Regions from separate parts of the Homo sapiens genome. Here region 1 is linked to region 2. Evidence: fine-mapped expression QTL. Tissue or cell type: whole blood. Region 2 holds a variant in brackets; the other region holds the start of a gene. All regions are shown on one strand. Distances are between the middles of the regions.

The links. PIP is the estimated chance that this variant, and not a neighbour inherited with it, causes the effect.
Region 1: it holds the start of RIPOR1, and the variant in region 2 is fine-mapped to the expression of RIPOR1 in whole blood (INTERVAL, PIP above 0.99).

Annotation. Positions count from the first base shown.
Region 1 is chr16:67,526,777-67,531,469 of GRCh38, forward strand. RIPOR1 (RHO family interacting cell polarization regulator 1) reads left to right here and starts at 2,053. Exons shown (of 22, transcript NM_024519.4): 1 at 2,053-2,138. LOC100505942 (a long non-coding RNA gene) reads right to left here and starts at 1,969. Exons shown (of 2, transcript NR_104656.1): 1 at 1,541-1,969. RefSeq lists silencers at 2,010-2,119, 2,150-2,379, 3,380-3,659.
Region 2 is chr16:67,596,269-67,601,672 of GRCh38, forward strand. All of the region lies in intron 2 of CTCF (CCCTC-binding factor), which reads left to right. Among named protein-coding and RNA genes, the nearest start is that of CTCF, 36 kb to the left of the region's middle. The variant G/A (reference allele first, on the strand shown) is at 3,092.

The sequences.
Region 1 (4,693 bases), 70 kb before region 2:
TGTCTGCAGAGAAAGTACTCAGAAGATGCCTGGCTGAGAGGTGACTTTAGGGGTGGGCAGAGGCCAATTGGTGCCAGCTTTGAGAACTCCAGAAAACCCCAGTCTCTAGCTCAGGTGGATGCCTGGGTAGACAGTGGTGCTTTGTAGGGATGGGGACAATGCTGAGGACTGGTGAGTCAACCAGAAAGCAGCCAGGGGCTCTGAAACAGGAGAGGGCTCTGGGCACAGAGGGAAGTTTGGGATGGTCAGCAGTGAATGGATGGGAGCCCTGAGACTGGATGATATTTTAGGGTAGGGTGAATAAAGAGAAGAACTCAGCCCCTGGAAGTCATGCCCAGGTTTAAGGACTTCAGAGAAAAGGGCACTGACCGGCCCAGTGGCTCATGCCTGTAATCCCAGCACTTTGAGAGGCCAAGGTGGGTGGATCGCTTGAGGCCAGGAGGTGGAGGCCAGCCTGGCCAACATGGTGAAACCCCATCTCTACCAAAAATATAAAAATTAGCCGGGACATCTCTACCAAAAATATAGAAATTAGAAGGCGGAGGTTGCAGTGAGCCGAGATCACGCCACTATACTCCAGCCTGGGCAACAGAGGGAGACTCCGTCCCCCAAAAAAAAACAAAAAAGAAAGAAAGAAAAGGGCACTACAAAGGAAGCCCAAGAGGAGGGGCTGGAGAGTGGAGAACTGTGAGGCAGAGGTGGCTCAAGCCTGTAATCCCAGTACTTTGGGAGGCCAAGGTGGGAGGATCGCTTGAGCCCAGTTAGAGACCAGTCTGAGCAACATGAAGAAAGCCCATCTCTAAAAAACCGACCAAACAGGCTGGGCGCGGTGGCTCATGCCTGTAATCCCAGCACTTTGGGAGGCCAAGGCGGGCAGATCACGAGGTCAGGAGATCGAGACCATCCTGGCTAACATGGTGAAACCCCATCTCTACCAAAAATACAAAAAATTAGCCGGGCGTGGTGTGGGCGCCTGTAGTCCCAGCTACTCGGGAGGCTGAGGCAGGAGAATGGCATGAACCTGGGAGGTGGAGCTTGCACTGCATTCCAGCCTGGGCGACAGTGACACTCTGTCTCAAAAAAAAAAAAAAAAAACCCGACCAAACAAAACCAAGCAAACAAGCAAAACACACAAAAAAACAGCCCTCAGGACTGGTGGGGGCGGGGTACAGATATTCAGGGACCTCTTACTGTCCCTGAAACCATTCCTGGGTAGGTCTGACATACATGAGGGCTGCGGGAGTGCAAGGCCTGGAGAAGCCTCAGGGGTGTCCAGGTTGGAAGGGCCAGGGGTGTCTGATTGATGGGAGGAGCGGGGGAGTGGAACTGGCCCTTTGACCCCAACATGGGGTCGACTCTCAGCCCCACCTTTACCGACTGTGTGGAGGGCCAGCATTCTAGCCCCGGCTTTGGAAAGGACTGGGTTGCCCAACACATGGCCCTGTACCCGGACCCTGCCAGCGTCCCCACCCCAAGACTGCCCGAAAACCAGTACCCAATGAGTGGGGAATGCATGACCCGGCTATGAGCCTGGACTTACCAGCCAGACAGTGGCAGAAAGGGCGGCCTGCCTCTACAGCGACGCTGAGGCTGGCTGAAATGGCAGGGCTGAAGGGCAGCGTCTGGACCCAGAAGGTGCCAGGCGGCTTCTGGACTCCCCAAGGCCTTCACAACAGCCCTGGATCCTTTCCACCAACCAGCCTAAGCCAGCAGTAGCAGCTCCAGGACCTGTTTCAGGTGGTCACGGACAGGGGGCCCGCAAGGTCTCCAGAGCCCGAGGGATCTGGGGAGGGGACAAGCAGGCGGGGCTCCCTGGCGCTCACCGTTTTAGGGTCTGCGTGAGAAAGCCTCCCTCACATCCCCCAGGGTCTGCCCTCCCTGCAAGCTGGTGGGCTGCGTGGGCCACCGGCCTGCCCCGTTATCCGAGAGGGCGGAGCGAGCCGTGGGCGCCTCTAGGGGTGCGGGAGCCGCGGGAGCGCAGGGGGTGGGGCCCGGCGGGCCAGGGGAGGGGCGGCGGGGCGGCGGGCGGAGGGAGGGGCCGGCGCCTGCGGCGGCGACAGCGGCAGCTGCGGCGCGACCAGGCCGGGCACCTCCGAGCGCAAGGACAGCGCGAGGTCCGCGCAGCCCAGCGCAGCCATGTGAGTGTCCCGCGCCGTTTCCGGGGCTGCAGGCCGGGCGGGGAGCAGGCGCGGAGGTTCTGGTGCCCCCCCGCCGGCGCCGCCCGGTGGGTCCGGGATCTGCGGCTCTGTCCCGCCTCACCCCATCTCCCGGACCCCGGCCGCGCCTTGTCTTTCCTCCCCTCCCCCCGGGCGTGGAGAACGCAGCTTCTCCCACAAAAGCCGCCGCCTCCGGGCCTGCAGAGCCTGGCGCTGCTGCCTTCCTCCCACGGCAAGGCCCTGGCGGCCGGTGCCCCGGGGCGCTGGGATGGGCCAGGCCAGAGAGCGGGCTCAAGGCGCCAGCCTGGGCCCTGGCACGCGCGCTCCCTGGGAGCCCTTGCTGCCTTCGCCGCAGGGGAGGCTGGGCTGGAAATGGGGAGGGGGCGACGAAGGGTGCGGGCCGGCCTAGGAGCTGAGCTAATCCTCCTAGCTCTAGGGGCCGGCCTAAGCGGCTTTGTGGCCGGCCCCGAGGTGACCGAGCCTGGGCTGGAGCCGGGCTCTCCGCCCAAACCTGGCGTAGCCGAAGCCGGAGAGGATCGTCCTTGTCGGGGAACGGAGCTTTTCCCTGGAAATGGAGGTTGGCGCAAGGTTCCTGCAACAGCCGGGCCTGGGCTCTCTGCAGAACTGGTTTGGGCAAGGGGCTGCTCACCAGGGCTAGAGGTCGGATTCAGTCCAGATTCAGCACCCTTTGTCCTCCTCTCCAGGGTGAGCCCTGAGTCCGGCCTCCCCTACAGACCCTCCCCAGCCAGTTCTAACGTGTGTCCAGGCTGGCCGCCCCAGCACCTACTGTGCGCAGCCTCGTGTAACAATACTTGTGCCCTGGCTGCAGTCTGCGGGGCCGCGCCCTGGGCCTGCCGCATTCGGCCAACGCACAGCATCTGAGGAGGGTTATGACCATCTGGCAGATGCAGAAACAGGCCCAGAGAGGTTAGTAGTATTCTCAAGGTCACACAGCTGGTTTGGGAGAAGCGAGGATTAGATCTGAGTCCTTGCCCCTGCGACACCCACCTCCGTGGTATTGGAGGGAGGAGAGGAATGATAATTGGGGGCTGAGGTACAAAATACTCCAGCGGGACAAGGAGGACTGGCATAGCTCCTTCTTCCACCGCCCTCTCCGGCTTGGGTCCTGTGACTGCGGCGGGAGAGAGGAGCAAGGTGAGCCGCCCCAGGGGTCTGGGTTTGGGTGCGGGTGAGGGGAGGACTCAGGACTCTGGGCTGGGTCCCGCTTGAGAGAAGCGGGCGGGGAGGGCGCGGGTGAGTCACGGCGGCCCCTCTGCGTCGCCGCTCGGACTCAGCCCTGGCCAGGCCCGGCCCGGGGGAGGCCGCCTGGCTCCCAGCGCGCGGCCAGGGAATGTAACCAGCTGACCAGGGAGGGGGCCGGCAGGAAGTGAGGCCACCCGACAGCCTCCGCCCGGTTCCGGGGTGGGGGGTCCGGGGCTGTGCCGCTCCCCCTCCCTCCTATACGCTTGGGCAGCTGCGAGATGACGTCAGCCGCCGGGTTTGGGGGCAGTTGCCATGGAGACAAGGACAGGCTCAGAAGGGACCCCCTTCTCCCTTGCAGCCGCCCCTTGCCCAGGTTATTTTTAGCCTCTGTTTACCTCGGTCGGGGCGGCCCCGGGGTGGGGCGGGGCTAGACCCGGGGACTCCCAGAGAGGCAGCTGGCCTGGCACAGTGCTGAGATGGGCAGCCCAGGTGGTGGGATATTCCGCCGCACCCGGGTGTGCCAGTCTTGGTGTGTAGGAAGTATAGCGGGGCTGCAAGATCTGGGGCCATGCGGACAGGTCAGGGCTCCTCCACTCACGGCCATCCTGACCTGGCTGTGCTGCAAGCCCCATAACCTTTGGAACCTTGGATCTGGGTTATTTCCCATCCTGGGAACAGACTATAGGGCTGACATGAGCCCAGAGAGTCCCCTGGTTCTTATCAGCCAGTCCCCCACCAGTTGAGGTGGCCCTTCTGCCTTAGCTCAAGGGGTTCAGCTCTTTCCCTACCTGCTCTCACCCAGCAAGGGCAATCTTGCCCGCCCATCTCCCGAAGCGGTCACTCAGATGGACATTATGATGGTCATTTGTACCAACAGTTAGACATCCTAGTTCCTATGGGACTCGGGGGATGGTGGCAGCAGAGGGCCAACCAGAGAGAGAAAAGTGATGGAACAGTCAGCGGTTTCCAAGTCCAGAATCCCAGGGGATCCCCACCCTGCACCATCCCAGGGAGCAGAGCCCCACTTGCTGATGGTATACGATACCATCAGCCAGTGGGAAGGGAGAGGGAGGATTGCATGTCGGGTAGGGGAGTTGGGGTGGACATAGACTTAAAATCCTCCCCACCAACAAACAGCTCAGGACCTGCTGTTCCTGTGTCTAGGCAGCCCAGCTTCCCCCACTGTTCCCCCCCTTCATCTCCCAGGTGCTACAGGACCCCCAGAGCGCTGTGGTGAGCCAAGCAGATATGCCCCAGGTCTCACAAGGTTCAGTCTGGTGGGAAGACAGGCCCTAAAGGAGAACTGACAACTGGGTTATGTGGTCTCGGGGTTC
Region 2 (5,404 bases):
AACAACCATAGCAGTTTAACAGAGGCAAATGCTGTCACATTATTTTAGTTTAGCATTTCTTTTACTATTAATGAGGTTTGGTTTTTTTCTTATTCATCTGCCATTTGTGTATTTTCAGTCATCTATTTGTGTCCTTTGCCCAGCTTTTTCTTTCAGTGTTCATCTTTTCATTGTAAATTTTACAGTTATACATATGATAAAGAGGTTAATCCATTGTCATAGATGTTGCAGATATTTTTTTCATGGTTGGCCATTTTCTTTTTAGTTTTTGTTCAACATGTTTTTGTCATACATAATTTTATTTTTATTTTATTTTATTTTATTTATTTATTTAGAGACAGAGTCTCGCCCTGTCACCCAGGCTGGAATGCAGTGGCACGATCTCGGCTCACTGCAACCTCCACCTCCCTGGTTCAAGCAATTTCCCTGGCTTAGCCTCCCTGAGTAGCTGGGATTACAGGCACATGCCACCATACCTGGCTAATTTTTTTGTATTTTTAGTAGAGATGGGGTTTCACCGTGTTGGCCAGACTGGTCTCAACTCCTGACCTCAGGGAATCCACCCACCTTGGCCTCCCAAAGTGCTGGGATTACAGGTGTGAGCCACTGTGCCCAGCCTGGAATTTTTAATTTTATTTTATGGTGCTTAAAATCTCAATCATTTCCTCTGATTTCTCTTATTACTTAGGCTTCTAAGCACAAAGCCTTCCTCATTTTTAGAAAGCTGTTCACCTTTTTCTTTTTAAAGTTTTGTGTGTGTTTTTGTTTGTTTTGTTTCATTTTGAGACAGGGTCTCACTCTGCCGCCCAGGCTGGAGTACAATGGCACAATCATGGCTCACTGCAGCCTCAACCTCCCCAGGTTCAGGAGATCCTCCCACCTCAGCCTCCTGAATAGCTGAGACCCCAGGCGCACACCACCATGCCCAGCTGACTTTTTGTATTTTTAGTATTGATGGAGTATCTCCATGTTTCCCAAGCCAATCTCGAACTCCTGGGCTCAAGCGATCTGCTGGCCTTGGCCTCTCAGTGTTTGAATTACAGGCGTAAGTCTCTGTACCTGGCCACTAATGCTTTTTTTTTTTATTTTGATACAGAGTCTCGCTCTGTTGCCCAGGCTGAAGTGCAGTGGCGTGATCTTGACGCACTACAACCTCCACCTCCTGGGTTCAAGCAGTTGTCTGCCTCAGCCTCCCGAGTAGTTGGGATTACAGGTGCCCGCCACTAAGCACAGTTAATTTCTGTATTTTTAGTGGAGACGGGGTTTCACCATGTTGGCCAGGCTGGTCTTGAACTCCTGACCTTATTATCCACCCGCCTTGGCCTCCCGAAGTGCTGAGATTACAGGCGTGAGCCACCACACTTGGCCCTGCCAATGCTTCTTTGTTTCATACAACAGATACATTCCAAATGGATTAAAGATAACTTCTGTTTTTTTCCTACATAGTTAACTGTTTTTCTGGTACCTTTTATGCAGTAATTCTCTTTTCCCTACTGATTTAAAATGACAGCTTTTTATTTGCTAGGCTTTGTTTCTGGATTCTCTCTTCTGTTTAAATTGTCTGCCTATAGTAGTAACAGTACCACATTATATGAATTATGTAGCTTTATGGATATAGATAATAGTGTCGCTACTTAGTGAGGTTTTTTAAATGCCTCCTGGAGGAGTTTGGGGCTGGAGGGGAAGGGTTGTTTTCTTTTTGGTTTTGTTTTTCTTAGTTTTTTTTTAGACCATGTCTCACTTTATTGCCCAGGCCAGAGTGCAGAGGCATGATCACTACTCACTATAGCCTTAACCTCCTGGGCTCAGGCGATCCTCCCAGCTTAGCCTCCAGGTAGCTGGGACTACAGGCATACACCATCACACCTGACTAATTTTTTAAAGTTTTTGTAGAGATGGTGTCCTACTGTGTTGCCCAGGCCTGGTCTCAGACTCCTGTGCTCAAGCAATCCACTCTCCTCAGCCTCCCAAAGTCCTAGCAGTCAGGTGTGAGTCACTGCACCTGGCCAGTGGAAGAGTTTTATAATCTTCAAATAGACCCTGCACATTTTCAGTTCACGTTATTCTTTTTCTTGTATCTTTTTATGTTTATGTATATTTTCCTATATTTATTTAATAGATTGTATATACACTTTCAAGTTTATAGCCCATCTTGTTCCAGAAAGAACTTGAAGAAATATTTAGGAAAGACAGATAATAAGTGATATAAATAAACCAGAAAATACAAATTATAATAGAAAGTTATTATTACATGGTTTGAGAGGCAACAAATTAATCAAGCTGTAGCCAGCTAAAAAAATGGCAACATGATCCTGTTACATAGGTTTCACAATGAAAGAAAAAAATTTCCTTGAAGAAAAGCTTTTCCAAGTATTTAACTCCCAGTGCAATTTCTCCCACATATCTTTTAGTGTAAGCTAAGGCATGATGCCAAAGTGAAACTCGATAAAAGCAATTCTGTAGGGGATAAGGCCGTGTGGCCCAAGTATACCCAGCTTTCTGATGGTCTGGCATAATTCTGGGATAAAGCCTAGACTAGAATGCTGAATTCCACAGAGAGGTCAAGTCAGATGAGGACAGAAAAGCCTCGGTGGATTTACCAATTAAAGGCCATTGCTGGCCTCAGAGCAGCTCCGTAAAGTATTGGGGATCAGAAACCAAACTGGTGAGTGGAAAGTAAGGAAAGAATTAGAGACAGCAAGTGTTAAGTTGAGCGTGGTAGGAAAAAAGAGATGACAGATACTAAATCGTGCATTGGGGTTGAGGGGAGTTATAAATGGGCAAGATTTAAGCAACATAGAGCTAGCTAAGAAGTGGCTGAAGTGGCCGGGTGCGGTGGCTGAAGCGGCCGAATGTGGTGGCTCACGCCTGTAATCCCAGCACTTTGGGAGGCCGAGGCTGGTGGATCACGAGGTCAGGAGATCGAGACCATCCTGGCCAACGTGGTGAAACCTCGTCTCTAGTAAAAATACAAAAACTAGTTGGGCCTGGTGGCACGCGCTGGTAGTCCCAGCTGCTCAGGAGGCTGAGGCAAGAGAATCACTTGAACCTGGGAGGCAGAGGTTGCAGTGAGCCGAGGTCGTGCCACTGC[G/A]CTCCAGCCTGGGCAACAGAACGAGAATCTGTCTCAAAGAAAAATAAGTGGCTGAAGCAAGAGGAGGAAGAACTGATCCATGCCCCCTAAGGATACAGGCCTCTGGGGTCTCTGTGTTGGAGCCTAGGCCCTTGCATCCTCACACTCACCATTCAGCAGGGGCAGAGAAGCATTAAGATGCCAGTTTTCCTTCCTTTTAGCCCCTCATCCCCGATTGCCTGGATTGTTCTTCCTCAGTCTGGAGGAACCTCCTGTTCATCATCTACACAGAAGTTGACTGAATAATAAAATTTTTTTATCTAAGCTTCACTTTTTCACCTAGATGATAGAGAAACACAATAAGGATCTGGTCTTAGGAGCTCCATTTTATGGTGATACCACAGTCCGGACGACTAAACCACCCACTTTGCCAAGCTCATTTAGTTGGTTAGTGATGGATTGGGTATACTGGAGTTTCTGTTTATTCCCTGTCCAGTGTCATTGAGTTGAAGGTGACAGCCAAACATTAGTAGATCCTTTAGGCAGTGAAACTGGGATTGCAGATATGGATTGGAAAGACCTCTGTGTAGAAACAGTGGAAGTTAAAAGGCTAGTGTAATGGGCGGCTACGGAGCCTTGGTGTGCTCAGGGGGGCTGGTGAAAGAGTACTCAGAGACGAAGGGAGCTAAGGGAGGAAAGAGGCTTATGAAGGAATAGGATGAGTTTCATCTTGTCAGATGCCAGAGAAACTGAGATTTAGAAAGAGGGAAAGGCCCTTGGGTTGACTCTGGTGGTTCTTGATGGATGGTACCTGTGGGCCAAACAAAGGGGCCGCAGAGGGCTAAGGAGGGAGTTGAGTCCTTTTTAGTAAGGACAGATATTTAAATTTATTATTTTTTTTATTTTTTTTATTTTTGAGGAACAGAGTCTCACTCTGTTGCCCAGGTTGGAGTTCAATGGTGTAATCTCAGCTCACTGTAACCTCTGTGTCCTAGGCTCAAATGATCCTCCTGCCTCAGCCTCCCAAGTAGCTGGGGTTACAGGCATGCACCACCATGCCTGGCTATATTTTGTAGAGATGGTGTTTCACCATGTTGCCCAAGCTGGTCTCGAACTCCTGGACTCAAGGGATCTGCCCACCTCAGCCTCCCAAAGTCCTGGGATTACAGGTGTGAGCCACCATGCCTAGCCTGGCTAATGTGTGTTTTTTAAAATTTGTTTTTAGAGATGGGGTCTCCCCATGTTGCCTGTGCTGGGCTTGAACTCTTGGGCTCAAGTGATCTACTTCAGCCTCCCAAAGTGCTGGGATTACAGGCTTGAGCCATCACACCTAGTCATAAGGACAGATTTTTTGAGATAGAGCAAAGCCATATATAGAAGTGTATATAAATTCCATATATAGTATGATTTCATATATATACAAAATATATACCTTTAACTGAATAGCTGAGAAAACAGCATCAGAATATTAGGTGATTTTCGTAATCTGGAGGAAAAAAAATGTGTCCTGTAAGTAAATTAAAACCGCTTTGAGTGATATAAACTTCATTTTGGTGGCGATATTGGTCCACAAAAAATATTTGATGAAACCTAGAAGGCATGGGCGACTCAAGCAAGCATAGAGCCAAAAAATATGTAGGAATTAGAGTGAGTGGGTATGTTTTGTACTAAGAGGAACTGAGTATTTGAAAGCAGTAAAGAAAGGAGATGGATTGGAGCTGCTAGTGTCGGGAGAGGCAGCTAGAAGCGCAGTCCCCAGGGAGTGGGGAGAATGACCTGGTCCAGCCTATTGGTTACTTATTGATTCAGAGGAGAGACTCCCATCGTCTGGAAAGAAAGTAAAAGGAGAGATCCACTGCTTGATGGAATGCACTAAGGGGTGTGTGTGTGTGTGTGTGTGTGTGTGTGTGTGTGTGTTTTGTTTTGTTTTTTAAGACAGAGTCTCACTCTGTCACCGTGTGTGTGTGTGTGTGTGTGTGTGTGTGTGTGTGTGTGTGTGTTTTGTTTTGTTTTTTTTTAAGACGGAGTCTCACTCTGTCACCCAGCCTGGAGTGCAGTGGCGTGATCTCGGCTCACTGCAAGCTCCACCTCTCGGGTTCATGCCATTCTCCCACCTCAGCCTTCCCAGTAGCTGGGACTACAGGCGCCTGCCACCACGCCCAGCTAATTTTGTTTTTGTATTTCTAGTCGAGATGGGGTTTCACCATGTTAGCCAGGATGGTCTCGATCTCCTGACCTCGGGGATGCTCTGAGATTCTGAGCAGTGTATTGAGAGGCTGATGGCTTGCTACTTTGTGTCTGATTTTTCTCTATTAAAAATAGAAGCTATTGCTT